Linked DNA regions of Homo sapiens. The protein of the gene in region 1 interacts with the protein of each later gene in a pairwise test. Each region holds a gene or a part of one and is shown on either strand. Other genes may lie near its edges. The genes, in order: VANGL1 and CD82.

The links.
Region 2: the proteins of VANGL1 (region 1) and CD82 interact in binary tests that used the Homo sapiens proteins (3 or more experiments, as listed by UniProt).

Annotation. Positions count from the first base shown.
Region 1 is NC_000001.11:115,644,735-115,652,006, forward strand, and holds part of VANGL1 (vang-like protein 1), read left to right. Parts: intron 1-6,542; 5' UTR 6,543-6,679; coding exon 6,680-6,750; intron 6,751-7,272.
Region 2 is NC_000011.10:44,603,650-44,610,921, forward strand, and holds part of CD82 (CD82 antigen), read left to right. Parts: intron 1-768; exon of another isoform or gene 769-809; coding exon of another isoform or gene 810-852; intron 853-858; exon of another isoform or gene 859-1,081; intron 1,082-1,368; exon of another isoform or gene 1,369-1,408; coding exon 1,409-1,533; exon of another isoform or gene 1,534-1,688; intron 1,689-1,705; coding exon 1,706-1,780; intron 1,781-7,272. UniProt on the Homo sapiens protein: Structural component of specialized membrane microdomains known as tetraspanin-enriched microdomains (TERMs), which act as platforms for receptor clustering and signaling.

The DNA.
Region 1 (7,272 bases):
CAAGCAAATATACATCACATAACTCCAGACATGTTAACGATTCACACCTCTTCAGAAATCTGTACCCAGCTGCTGGAGGTGTTTCAGGGGTAATTAATGACTGGAGCCAAGAGAAGTTATTCTGGCAAGGTGAGTTGAAATCATTGGCGAAACAAGTAAAACAAAGTTGACATTTTCTTTCCTTGTAAATAATGACCCAGAATCATTCATTTATAAGCTGTTGTAATAAAAGAATCATTGGGTTTGTCACAAATGCCATAAGCCCAGCAGATCCTCACATCAGTGACCTGCATGATGTTTGGTGGTTTATAGGCCACAAGTTCAAAATGTTTTATAGATTTGCCCTGCATCTCTGCCCGCTCCTTTCCAGCCCATGCCCCTCCAAATAAACCCACTAAAACACACACGGTTTCCTCTGGTCTCTCTGACATTTGCTTCCAACCTGGGGATGGTAAATAGAGGCCTGTAAGAAACAGAATAGAAATCACTTGTTACTCAGCTATAGCTAATAGTAGCAGTTAAAGGTGGTAGCAGAGACCAGAAAAATGTGTATAAGTTCAGTGAAAATGATACAGAAGTTATATGCCATACAACCCCTTCAGTTCTTCCTAACTGAAGGAATTTTACTCTAGTGAATACTAGTAGTAGTTGACAGCTGTGAGTGCCTACCACGTGCTAGGCACTGTTCTAATAATTTTTATGAATTATCTCATTTAATACCTACCACAGATCTATAATATAAGTAAAATAAAATCTGTTGTTACAGTTAGGGAAACTGAGGCAGAGAGCAGTTAAGTAACTTGTTCTGAGGTCACACAGCTAAGTACTAGAGCCAGGATTTGAATGCTCTTCACCCACAATTTGGGCTCATTGCTACTCTCTAGAAGAATAGTTGACTCTAAACAAAATTATTTCAATTGTCACTTTCCCCTTGAGTGCCATTTAATTAAGAATGGGTACCCCTAAGAAGAATGTTAGCTTCAAGACATAATATAAATAATAATTAATAGCATAATCTCTGCAGAATTCTATGTAAAAATCAAATATTCAGAATAATATACACAGCATATATAAGCATGGTTGTACCAGACACCACTTTTCCTTGGAAATAGATCTACTTACTGCATAGGAAGCAAAATCTCTCTTTAAATTCAGTGCGTGTCTCTGTAACCCTTACAAAGTAACTTTCCAAACCAGAGCTCCCTTAATTACTTAATAGCTCTAGGCAGAGCTGTTGATGTTTTTATAATTTCCTTTTTGCGAAGGTTAGCTTATGTTTACCACTGTCATTATCATAACATATTATTTCCTTCATACGATTTGCTAAACACTGTGTTTTCATATTAAGTAGTAGGATTTTTATATGAGTGAACATGACTTTAGGAGAGAATTCTGTTTGAGGCTGATTATCTTCATTTTGCTTTTGATAAAGGGTGGTGAAGGAGGTTCTTTCTGACATTTTTGCCTAGGAAGTCCAGAATTTAGGACACTGCCACTTAGAAGCACTCTGTGCACCTATCTCCCATTGTTGACCTTGCCTGCATGCAATGTGGTTCAATGAGCCTGGCCGTGTCCTAATATTTGCCTCCAGCCCCTACCCAAGCAGTGCCAAGCAATACACTCTTAAGGGGTGGGTGACCGGTGAGGCAAGATGCTCTTGGGCAGTGGCTGAAAGAGGCTGCTGCTGATTTTTACTCAGTGTGTCTGGCATACGAACTCTGCCCCTGAGTGGGACTGCCATGCGAGCCAGTAGTATAGCTTTTTTTTTTTTTTTTTTGATAGTTCTGGTATCACGCCTCTATCTAATATCTGCATCTTTTTTTTTGCCACCTCTAAAACTAAGGATTTAAAATAGATAATTTCTAAAGTTTCTTCCACAATGAATCTATGGCCTCATGTCCTAAGATCTGCCACAAAACCCTTCATTCAGCAGACATTTATAGGGTACCCATAATGTCCTAGGAGCTGGAAAGACAGGCAGTCATGAAAGTGCCTCTGCCCTCATGGAGCTTACAGCCTGTGAAGAAACTAGACAATAAGTGATCACACAAACAAATGTATCACTGGAAGTTGGATAGAAAGGAAGAGTACAGGGTACTAGAGAAGAGCCTGACTGAGATTGAAGGATCAGGAAAGGCCTCTTGAAAGGAGCAGTATTTAAATTAAGGAGTGATGAGTAGGAATTTGGCAAAACAGGGCATGTAAAGGGTGAGTACCAACAGATATACTGGGCTCTGCCAAAGCCCTAAGACTCTACCTTAAAGGAGCTGGGGCTAGAGAAGGAGGAGGGAGCTAGAGCGTCGGGCAGGACATTGCATACCAAATGAAAGATTTTTGTATTTTATTTAAAGTGCAGTGGGACACCACGGAAAGGTTTTAAACAGGGAAGTGACGTCTGCATTGTAATTTAAAAGGTCACTCTGGCTGCTGCCCAGCCTGGGCCAAACACAATATGAGTCATGTCAGGGGTCAGTATGATAGACAGTTCCAGGTTCTAGGAGCCATATTCCCACCTTTATATGACTGTCCTATTCATGCTGCTGTGACAGCCTATCAGTGTATTACCCTGGGAACCTGATTCCTTTTCATTGCTTTATTGTCTTTTCTGATAAGGGATTCCTTCTGACCTTATCATGAGTTTGGTTAATTTCTTGTGTATGCAAGGGAACTATCTCATAGATATATCATTGCAGTGGTAAGCTTCAGGATATCCTTTTCCATTAAGTCTGTTGAAGTTCTTACCTTGGCTCAGACTCTTTTAAAATAAGTTCACTTCGGATTTTATTAGTTTGCCTCTTATTGCATCCTCTTAGTCCTCACTCAGATCTTGGATAGGATAAGAGTTGGTAACTATTAGAAACGGTATGACTTAGAAGGGGCCTGAGCTGTGTATAGGCTGGTGAGGACACCTGGAGGCTTTGTAGTGGTCTAGCCCTGTGTAGGTGGAGCCTGGAGGAAGTGGGTGGCTGTGAATCAGTAGAGTGAAGGGAGGATCAGAGAGGGTGTTGAAGGTGGCACAGGGTTAGATCCTTAGGATGAGGGTATTGCTTTAGCTGAGGAATTGGGAAGAACAGGACAGGATACTGGAGAGCACCTATGAGAGGGATGATGGTATTCCCAAGGGGAGCAAGAGGAATCTCAGTAGGAAATGTGCACTTGGGATTTAGTCTTTCAGTAAGTATTTGTTGGGTACCTGCTATGTTCAAAATATCCTGGGTGGAGGTAAGACGTAGTTGCTGTGTTCAAGGAGCTTCTGCCATAGGAAATCTGTGGATGGAGAAGACTGAGAAGAGTTTTGAATGTCAAGGGATAACGTGATGAGGGGAGAGGAGAGGGAGTGTTAGAGGAGAAGTAGTAACATAAGCGGCATCAAATTGGAGGCTAGCCAGCTGCAGAGAAACTCTGCTAGGGCAGGCAGCATGCCTTTGTCATTGCTGTGCCCTAGCATTGCCTAGCATGGTCTTGTAGGTGCCACTTAATATGGAGGTGGATGGACTAATAAATGAAATAAAAAGCACTGGGGGAGGAGGACAAGGATGTTACTTGGCTCATAGCAATCCTTGGCCAACTTTGAGTTGTTTCAGTGGAGTGTTGTGGATGGAGATTTGGACTGAAAGTGGAGAAGGAGGGAGTGACAGCATGTATAGACCACTCCTTTGGTAAGTACAGGAAGGAACCATGGGAGGGAAACCAGACTAGGGTGGTTGGTAGAGTTAGATAAAGCCTTTCCCTGGAGGGCAGTTGGGACCCATGGTTTCCTTTGAGGGACAAGCCTGGAGTTGTCTTAATGAATGGCCACAAGTTTTCAATGAGGACAAGGAATGAAGTCCTCTGGCAGAGGGGGAAGGGAATAAAACTTGGGTTACCATGTGCCAGAGACTTTACCTTTGCAGTTTCATTTAATCCTCACAAGAACCCTGGGAAGAGAGAGTATTAAATGACCTCATTTTTATGGGGCAGGGTTGGATAAGCTCAGAGAGGCAAACATTTGCCCCCTGATGTCACAGCTAGGAAGCACCAAGCTGGATCTGCCCACATCTGCGGGGCCTGGGCCACCTGCCTCTGAGACACTCCAGCAGCATTTAGCAAAAAGTAGCTGGAAGTTGGGATGGAATGGGGAATCCAGAGTTATGGGTTGCAAGGCAGAGTGTAGGAGTTGTGAAGGGTTAATTATGAATCTAGAAGAGAGTGGGAAATCGGTGTTCTGGGCCAGGGAACTGGACATTTGAATCTGCAGATCAGCAGAGGCTGGGTGAGGGGCTTTCAGGGAGGATCTCAGTTCACTCAGGGCTGGAGATCTTCGAAGCACATCCTAATGTTGACGTCTGCCTGTTATGAAGCAGGTGAGAAAACAGCAAAGCCCAGGGCAGAAAGGAAGTGAGACTGAGGTGTTGAAAGCTGATTGAAATTGCTAGTGAAAATGGTGGAGACAGTAGGCAGAAAAAAAGATGACTCAGCCCTTGAAGTCTTCTAGGAAAGTAGGGTAAGTCCAGGAGCAAAACTTAGCATTTAAAAAAGGCCTGCTGTGTTTTCACATTTAATCTTTACAGCTACCTCCCCCCACAAACCCCCACCATAATAGGCTGCCTTGCTTCCTTTTTATGGATTGGGAAGTCTCTGAGGCTCCAAGGAGAAACTGCTTTGCCCAGGTGTACAGCTAGTTAGTAGGCAGCGGACTGAGATGTGTGCTCCGTTCTGTCTGACTGCAGGTGAGCCTTGTGGCAGGAAGGCCGGCACAGAGACTCTGCTCTGCTTCTTTCCAAGCATTTCTCTCATTAAAAAGACAGAGGAACAAGCATTTCGGAACCCGCAAAGAGAGTGCTGATAGACAGTGACTTTCGTTTACCTAGCACATCTGGAGCTCGCGCTGGGTGCCTTCATAGTTGTTAGCTCATTTGGTCTTCACGGCAACCCTGATATTTGCATTTTACAGTTACATGTTCAAAGAGGTTTACTAATTTTGACTGGGGCCTGATAGCTAATAAGTGAGTAAAACCCGAGATTGGAACCCACCTTTGGAAACTGTGTCTGCTTATATTTTCAGATCTACCTGTGAGGTCGGTGGCTGGTTGGTTTACCCTGTTTAACAGATGAGGAAACTGAGGCATAAGAAAGCAAGTGGCTTATCCCAGGTTGTACTAAACAGTGGCTGGGCTCAGACTAGAACTCAGGTTTCCCCAGGGCTAGCCTTGGGCTCCTGATGGCAGAGGAGAAGTGAAATGGTAAGTCAGGGCATCAGGGACAAAGGAGGCTGGCCCTGGGTGGCAGACCTTGGAAGTGATCGTACCTGACTCCCAGGAAGAATGAATGGTAAGGGTAAATACACCCTAACTGGGATTAGAGGCTGTGGGGGCTGTATTGGTGGTGTATGGCAATTTGTGCTGACCTGATTCCCTCCAGACTTATGTGTTGTTGCTGGGGTCAGGGAAACTTGGCCTCCTCCCAGGAGGGTTAGGGTATGGCATTTACAGCTCCTTTGTTTTTTCTTCACACTTATCTCACTGGCTGTGTTTGCAGTTTCAGCTTCCAGCGGCTGGAAGAAGGAACCCTGTTGAGCTGAGACTAGCTCTGGGGTGAGGGGTGCAGAAAGAGACAGAACTTGTGGATCTCGGTTTTCTAGAAGTAAAAATTTTAGCATGTGGGAGCTCAGGAATGTACTTGGAAATGTTTCCAATTTATTTTTATTGCAAAGCAATATCTAATGAAAATGTGGGAGAAGACCCAGGAGCCTGCAAATAATAAATTGCCTGCTTTCATTTTCTGTGTCTCCTTTTAAAAATCTTTGTCCTTACATAAGCAATTTTATACAATTGTAACTGTAATGTTGGTTCACTGTGTATCAACAATACTGTATCCTGCTTTTAAAATTCATCATTATAAGAGTTTCTATTCTTTATAATGATCATTTTAAACATATGTGATACTTTTCTGGTGGATGAACCATGTTTTCCTTACCTATTCCTGTATTCTGGGGGCATTCAGATTGTTTCTAGCATTTTATTATTTATAGACAATGAGACCACAATAATTTTTCTTTAAAAAAGAAATCAGTTCCCTCAGATAAATTCCCAGAAATTCGGATCCTAGATCAAAAAGATTGAAGATCTTTTTTTTTTTTAATTGACTTTTGGAAATTATGACCAAATCCCTTAAAAGCAACTTCGCTGGGTATTGTTTTTTTAACCAGCAAACTGGCAGTGGGGGGCTGGGCATTGTGTGGAGGGTCGCAGATGTGGAAAGCCACCTCCTAAAGCCAGTGAGCAGGGGTCAGGTCATCCTGAGGACGTGGACAAGTGCCTCCCATTTTCCTGCTGCTGTGGTAGGGGTTCAGCTTGCTCAGCGCCTATCCTGTCTCCCTCCCAGACACCTGGGAAAACTGGTTGCTGCATGGGTGGAGCATTTACAGTTCAGTTGCTTCACCCTCACTCGCTTGTTCCATGATAGAGACCCCAGAGAGGAGGTGTGGCTTTGTCATTTATCTTTCAGCCCCATTAAGGTTGGCTCTGAAGATTAATGTCTTTTTTTTTCCCCCTCTTTCCCAGAATTTGTTCCTGTTGAAGAGTGGCTCCTCTTCTAATTTCCAGACTCCTTGAGGTTTTAGGAGTCTGGTAGGTGAAATTTTCTACCTCTAAGGAGAAACAGTACCTGCTCCTTCCTCAAGCGCAAGCCCTCCATTGCTATGGATACCGAATCCACTTATTCTGGATATTCTTACTATTCAAGTCATTCGAAAAAATCTCACAGACAAGGGTATGTAAGTTGTTCATTATTACACTTTTCCTTTTGGGGAAACCTACAGGTTGGTGGGGTTCTCTACACTCACTTTTCAGTGACTCAGCGCTGGACATTTGGTCGGTTGGTGCATGAGAAGCTGAGCTTTAAGAGCATTTAACATTCTTGGGAGTAACTACGTCACCAGTTTACATTTTATAGCCACCATTAGAGTTGATGACTTTAGTTTCTCACAATTGGTTTTAAATTAAAGTTTCTTCCTGCAGTGGAAATGTTTTTCATTTCTAGGTATTTCTTTTTTTTTTTTTGAGACGGAGTCTCGTTCTGTCACCCAGGCTGGAATGCAGTGGTGCCATCTCGGCTCACTGCAAGCTCCGCCTTGTGGGTTCACGCCACTCTCCTGCCTCAGCCTCCCGAGTAGCTGAGACTACAGGCGCCCACCACCACGCCTGGCTAATTTTTGTATTTTTAGTAGAGACGGGGTTTCACCTTGTTGGCCAGGATGGTCTCGATCTGACCTTGTGATCCGCCCGCCTCGGT
Region 2 (7,272 bases), on another chromosome or scaffold:
TGCGTCCCATGCCCTGGGGGTACAGTGTACCCATGCTGGTGAGTTAGAGATGACATGAGCTTTACCCTGTGTGATGGGTTGGGTGTCTTAGGAAATGTTGGCCAAGTGCCCCTGCAGGACTCCTGACCTCTACCTCCCGGAATGGGCCTGTCCACAGGTAGCTCTAAAGAGGGTCTTAGCCATCAGGCCCATTCCTGTACCTCCTAAGCATCATTTCCTCCCGGGCTTCTTTCTTGCTCTCACTGGTCCGTTCTCTCACCTTCTTTCCAATCTTCAAATAACCAAGCTCCTCCTTCCTCAGGCCTTTGCACCTGCTGTGTTCCCTGCCTGGAATGCTTTTCTTACAGATCTTTGCTTGGCTGACTTCTTCATTCATGTCTTGGCTCAAATGTCACTGGCTCAGGCTGGCCTTCGTCGACCCATTCTGACCCTCTCCCAGCCCAGCAGTTCTCTGCAGTTAGCCAGCTTTGGTATCTTCATGGCGCCCAACACAACCAGAAAACCTGTATTGTGTACTTTTTGTCTCCACTCCCCACCCCCAAATGTCAGACCTTGTTAGTCACTCTTCTGCATCCCCAGCAACTGGCACAGTGCCTGGCATGAAGTGGGCACCCAGTAAACATTTCTTGGCCGAATGAACATGCAGCACACCTGTAGCAATACATGTGCCCCGTGCATCAGTGGAAAGAGTGTGGCACTGGAGATTTGCATATTTTCAAATTCCAGCTCAGGCCCTTGCCTGTTCGCCTTTCTGAGCCTCATTTTTTTCTTCTGTGAAATGGCCATGCTAGTGCCTGCCAGGCAGGGTGATGTCAGAGTTGGAGACGGCGTGTGGAAAGCCCATGAGGCACAGTGAGTGGGCAAGAAAGGCTGGTGTTTGTTATTATATGGACAAGAAGGAAGGCGGGTTAAAAATCAGCTTGGAATCTTAATGTCAGTGGCCCCTGGAGAACCAGCCAGCCTCTTGTCTGTCAATTCCGCAGATATTCACTGTGCACAGCACCTCACTGCGAGAGGCGCTGTTCGAGCTGGGGGTTCCCCAGGAATAAAGTGAAGCTTCTGCCCTCATGCACCTCAGGTCCTTGGTGGAGGGGGAGAGCAGACAATGAGCAAGAAGAATCAGTGAAATGTAGTCTATTCAATCCTGAGAAGCCTTACGAAGTAAAAAATAAAGCCGGGAAGGGGCTTAGGCTGGATGAGGGTGTGGATTGCAATTTTACTGGGGGAGGGACACAAGTGGGGATGGGGGTGACCTGGTTCCCTGTTGGGCAGTGAGAAGCCAGCAGGGGAATGCAGCTGACCCCAACACCCTGGCTCCAAAGAGGGGATCCGGAAGAAGACCTGGACGGTTAGGCCAGGTGTTTATACCTGCTGTGCCCACTGATTTTGTACTTCTTCTTCCCCCTAGAAACCTCCTCCAGCTCGCTTAGGATGGGGGCCTATGTCTTCATCGGCGTGGGGGCAGTCACTATGCTCATGGGCTTCCTGGGCTGCATCGGCGCCGTCAACGAGGTCCGCTGCCTGCTGGGGCTGGTGAGTACGGATCCCTCCGCAGCTGCCTGCCCATTTCCTCTCATCCAGCCGAGTGCAGCCTGACCGCGGCGCTGGCCGTAACATCGGGTGGAGAGCATCTCTCGGGGCACGCAGGCTGGGTGCACCTGGTCGGGGACCCTCAGCTGACTTTGTGCCTGCTCTGTGTCCCCAGTACTTTGCTTTCCTGCTCCTGATCCTCATTGCCCAGGTGACGGCCGGGGCCCTCTTCTACTTCAACATGGGCAAGGTAAGCCCCTCTCTCCCTCCCTCTTCACTGGGCTGGACCAACCATGGGGGTGATTGACTGAGTGTGGGGGATGGACAAGGAACCCCCCCAGTTGTCACAGACAGATCCAGTAGGTGTCAGGGACGGCCTCCTGGACACTATTCCTTGTGATCAAATGGGGGAGCGTTAGAAGAGAAGGCGGCAGGTGTGGGCAGTCCCCGCTGGGCCTGGATCTTAGCCTGACCCCCCTGCTTTCTAGCTGTGTGGCCTTGGGCAAGCTGCTTGCCTCTATGTGCCTGTTCCACCATCTGTAAAATGGAAACAATAAGAAAACTGAACTCTCAGAGTGGTTGCAAAGATTATTCGAGATTATCTGAGTGAAACACATAGCGCATGGCACCATAAGTACTCAATAAATGTTATTCTTGTTATTATTAAGATACTTTAGCAACTATTAAATCCATGCCACTCACCCACAAATGAGGTTTAGAAGGAGACCGTTAATAAAAACATCAGTCTTGTGTCCGAGGGGAGATGTTCAGCTTTCAGAAACAGAAAATCAGACTTACAGCGGCTTAAAGTTGAAGGACATCTGTGGTTGACTTGACCGGAAGTCTGGTTTGGAAGCTCAGAGGCCCTGGTTCTGGCTGTTGAGCATCCTCGCTGGGATGGCTTTCCTGCATTATGACACTTACCTCGTGGTTCCAAGATGGCTGCCACAGCACCAGGCACGATGTCTGTGCCGCTGTGGCCTGAAGATGGGGAAGTGGGCAGTGCCAGACATGGCCATCCCTTTTATCAGAAAAGGCGCAGTGGCTCATGACTGTAATCCCAATACTTAGGGAGGCAGAGGTGGGAGGATTGCTCTGAGACTAGCCTGGGCAACATGGTGAGACCCCATTTCTACAAACAAATTTTTAAAAATGCTAGCCATGGTGGTGTTCACCTGTGGTCCCAGCTACTCAGGAGGCTGAGGCAGGAGGATCCTTGAGGCCAGGAGGTTGAGGCTACAGGGAGCCATGAAACAGAGCTTGGGGCAACAGAGTGAGACCCTGTCTCAAAAAAAAAAAAAAAAAAAAGTCCTCCAACAGACTTCCCCAGACTGGGTTACAAAGCCACCCCTGGTTGCAAAAGAGGCTGAGAATGTGAGTATCCAACTTTCAGACTCTAAAGACAGAGGCACAAGAGAGAAAGGAGCCAAGAATGGCTGTTGGGTGAGCCAGTTAATTGTGAGTCACAGTTATCACGTAAGAAGCACCTACTGTGTGCACGTGGGATCTTCTAGAAACTTTCCATACAGCGTCTTGTCCTCACAATGGCTCTGCAGGGTTTTATGTTGACAGATGGAGAAGCAGATGCTCTGAGATGAAGAGCAATAACAACATAGATAACAGTGACTCTAACACCCACCATCCCTCCAGTTGAGTCCATGCACAGCATATACCAAGTACAGTGTTGACCACGTTACACTCCTCCTCTCGCAGATCCTCACTAGGCCCTCTCAAGGTCGTGGGAGAATCCCCGTCCTGCAGATGAAGGAGTAAGGACAGCCTAGGCTCCCTGACTCCGAGTCCTGAGTTCACCCGTCCCCAGACCCTGCTGCACATGGCCTGTGGCCTAGCAGACCCTTAGGGTCCCTGCTTCCAGTGCCACCAGTTCTTGTCCACCAGGGAGGGTGGCAGAGCCGGCAGCCAGATAGGCTCCTGCCCTTCACCACTTGAAGGTCAAGTTGCCTGAGATCCCTCTTGGAAGGAAACTGAGAAAACACTATACCAACATCAACATCAACAAATAACATTTAATAGAACTTAGAACTTAATGGAACTTCACAAGACAAGATACTCTTGGTAGCTAAGGGCTAACTTGGGCACTGAGCTTCCTGGCAGTCAAGGCAAAAGTGGAAAATAGTGGATTTTGTAGATGAAAAGCAGCTTGTTTGGCTGTGAGACAGGAAGCCAGCAGTTAAGGGAGGGAAATTCCTTTCCCAGAAAAATGGTCATGGGGTCAGGTCTTCATTTCTGTCCTATGGCACTGAGCTTCTTTAGGACCTAGTTAGTGATATAATCAGGGTGGATTAGAACCAGGCCCCAGTGAGCCGGTTTCTATGACTCAGAAGCTGGTCGCCTCTGCAGGGATCTTGGGCAGTCCACCCTATGTGATTCACCATCTCACAGTAATAAATATGGCCCACCAGGTTGGCACCAACCACATGCCAGGAGCTGAGCTAGAAAAGTGAGCTGCAATACATGTTCAAATTTACAAACATTTTCCATTTGAAGAAACTGAGGCCCAGGAAAGCAAAGTGACTTTCAGCCACTGACACACACAGCTTGGATGCATCAGAGTGGGGATTTCCATCCTGATGCCTTGGAGTCCAAGGCCCATGCCTCCCTATCCACCACGCTGCCCTCCCGCCGGCTGGGTAACTCTGCTTGGCTGATAATGAGGAGCTTAGCCTCAGAGGTGTCCTATCAGCCCCAGAACAGGACTTGTTTGGAGATTTGGGTTTCTCGACCCCAGCCAAGCTCTGTGCATTGCACCCCCTGCCCCTGTCTTCCCCTTCAGAGTCCACACCCCCTAGTCCCAGCCTGCCTCACCTTAGTCCACCACCATCTTTTCTGGAAGGCAGGGGGAAATTTTCTGGCTTTGCTGAAGAAGTTCTGGTGCCACTGTATCGCCCGAATTGGAATGAACAATATATTTTTTTCTTTCGCAACGCATCATAAATCTCAGTGGAAGACTAAACATACTCTTGATGTGTTTATTCTGGCAGACAAGGCTCAGCGTGGGGGTGGGACTTGTTTGAACCTAAGGAAAAGAAAGGCCTTTTGAAAGGAGATAGGGCTCCCGTGCAGGTGGGTGGGAGTGACCCTGCTGTGGTCTCCAGGGCTGCCCTCTGTCCTTCCTGCCTCTGTCACCCGCAGCCACTCTTCTCAGGGCAGCGATGGGGAGGTTGGGGACCTTGGCATGGCCTGTCACCTCTGGAGCCTTGGGTTCTGCTTCTATAAATTGAGAATAAATCTGCCTCTCCCTGCTCTACCACTCAGGTTGAAGTGAACACAGACTGTGACACTTCTGTGAAAATGCAGAATGGTGTCCAAGGGTCTTGACTGTGGAACCACTGCTCTGACATTCTGGGCATGCTACTCAGCCTCCCTGTGCCTCAGTTTCCACATTTGTCAAACTAGTAACAATATAGGCCCACTGTCCCTTCTCTGCAATTCTGAAATCCAAAGAAACACTTTAAAAACCAAAAGTAGCATTTGCAACTAATTTGGTGGCAAAATTGAACCTGAACAGAAGCAAGGCTATGTATGGCCTTTGCCTGCCCCATTCGGGTGTCCCTAGGGAAATAGAAATGAGACTCACTGCAGGCTGCTGCCCCAGCCCCCACTAGTGGGTGTGATCTGTCCCTCCAGGCCCTTTCTAAAATCTGATCCTGTCTCGAGCCGGAGCCCCCAGGGGCTGCCTTGCAGCACTTCAGAGATGAAGAGCACTAACAAACGGGAAGGGCGTCGTGCGGCACTCAGCCGGAGGCTGATGTTGCTGGCATCATTGCCAGTGTTTATTATTATTGCCGCCATTATTCACTTCATGAAGGCCTGGTAAGGGCTCAATAGGTGGCAGCTGTTCCTGCTGCCCTCGTTGTCAGCAGAGCAAGGGCTGCGGGAATGGGGATCTGGGCACGGTGCTAAGATCCTCATCTGCTTGTTTATCCAGCCTCTGGTGAGCAGAGCCCAGCCCTGGGATTCAGGGGCCCTGTGTTTTAGTGTGGGCTCTGCCGCTGATTGCTGTGTGGCTTCGGATAAGTTACCCAGACTCTCTGATCCACAGGCGAGCTCTTGGGCCATGCCCAGTGCAGGCAGTCAGGGATTCTGACTTGTTCTCTCTAGAGAGTGGAGGTGGGAGGAGTGAGAAGGAAGTGAATGCAGTTTGCCCTTTCCTGTGGTGTGTGGGTGCTGAGCTGGGTGCACTTGGCAGGCCATACCTGTGCCAGGGAGGCCCCTGAGGCTCTGAGTGCTGTCACGCTCAAGCAGAAGACATTGGAGGGGAAGGGGCTCACTTGGCCTGGCTGGGAGCCAGAGGTGGGGGCTGTGACAGTGGCAGTGGCTGGCCAGACAACTCCCCAGAGATGTTGGTCAGGGGAACTGTGACTTCCTTCTTGTCCTCCTTGCTCTCACCCTGAAAGCCCCAAATTGTTGGTGCGCACATACCCTCATGTGTGAGACACAGGTGGCGAGACGGGTTCCTAGGGGACAGTGTGGTTCTCTGTGAACTGTCTGCTTGCTGAATTAGAACTTCCTGATTCTCTGGCTTGGGGTTCTCTTGCGATGGGGCAGAGGGAGGAAGAGCAGCTGGAGCCTGGGACAGGGAGAGGTGACCTTTCTCTCCCCTGTTGAGAAGGGAATGGAGGAGTCCAGGCTACCCCTCTGGAAAGGGATTATGGAAAGACACTTGGGCTAGAATCTCTGAAGCACACGCTGGTCACTGGCTCTGCATTCTGGGGTAGCTAATTACGTGGATTGCAGCTGGACTTGCAGAAAAGATGCAGGAAGCGCCCTCATTTCCTATCAGGGTACTGGGATGCAGCCTCTGAGCTGGTGTATCTGTATTCTAGCAAAGCATTTGCCAACATCTCATGTGGGAAACCTGGAGAGGACAGGAAGATGTGGGTCCAATTCATGCATTTATACCTTATTATAAGGGGCTATTTCACACCTTAAAGAGCATGGCAAGAGGTCTGCACAGCACCCCAAGGGGCGGGCACAGGAGCCCGAAAAGTTACCCTGGAGATGTAGTCTAGTCTCAAGTATCTGGATGACATGTGTCCTTCGAGAGAGGGATTTGATTTGTTCCTGTGGTCCTAGCTGGGACTTGGGTAGCTGAGAGAGGAGGAGGATGTGAACTAATACAAGTGGGTAGAAGTCATTTGAGCAGAACTTAAATTGTATCAGAGCCTCTCAACTCCGCAACATGCTATTGTGTGAGGTACTGACTTCCCCATCGCAGGGAGCATTTAAGCAGAGCCTAAAAAAGCATGACTCTTACATTTGGATGATTTGCTGGACGCAAAGGTCTCTCCTAACTCTGACTCTGTGAAAATTCACACTAAAAGAGAAGTCAAAGCTCAGCATTTGGGTGGGACGTGAGTAGAGCCATGCAGAGGACAGCAGGGTCATGGGGAGGCCCTGGGCAGCTTGCCGAGGCTAAGATCCCGGGTCCCTGGAGCTGCACAGATCAAGGTCTGGTCATGTCTCTGCTGCTTTCTATCTATGTGATCTTGGGAAGTTGCTCCAACTCTGAGCCTCATTTTTCTCTTCTGAGAAATGGGGAGGAGGGAGACAGGGAAGACAGGGCTGGCTTCCTCGGCATTCAACCTATGCAGTCACACAGGATAATCTGCTGTTGCTGTATTGAAATTCTTTTTTTTTTCTTTTCTTTTTGAGATAGAGTCTTGCTCTGTTGCCCAGGCTGGAGTGCAGTGGGATGATCTCGGCCCACTGCAACCTCCA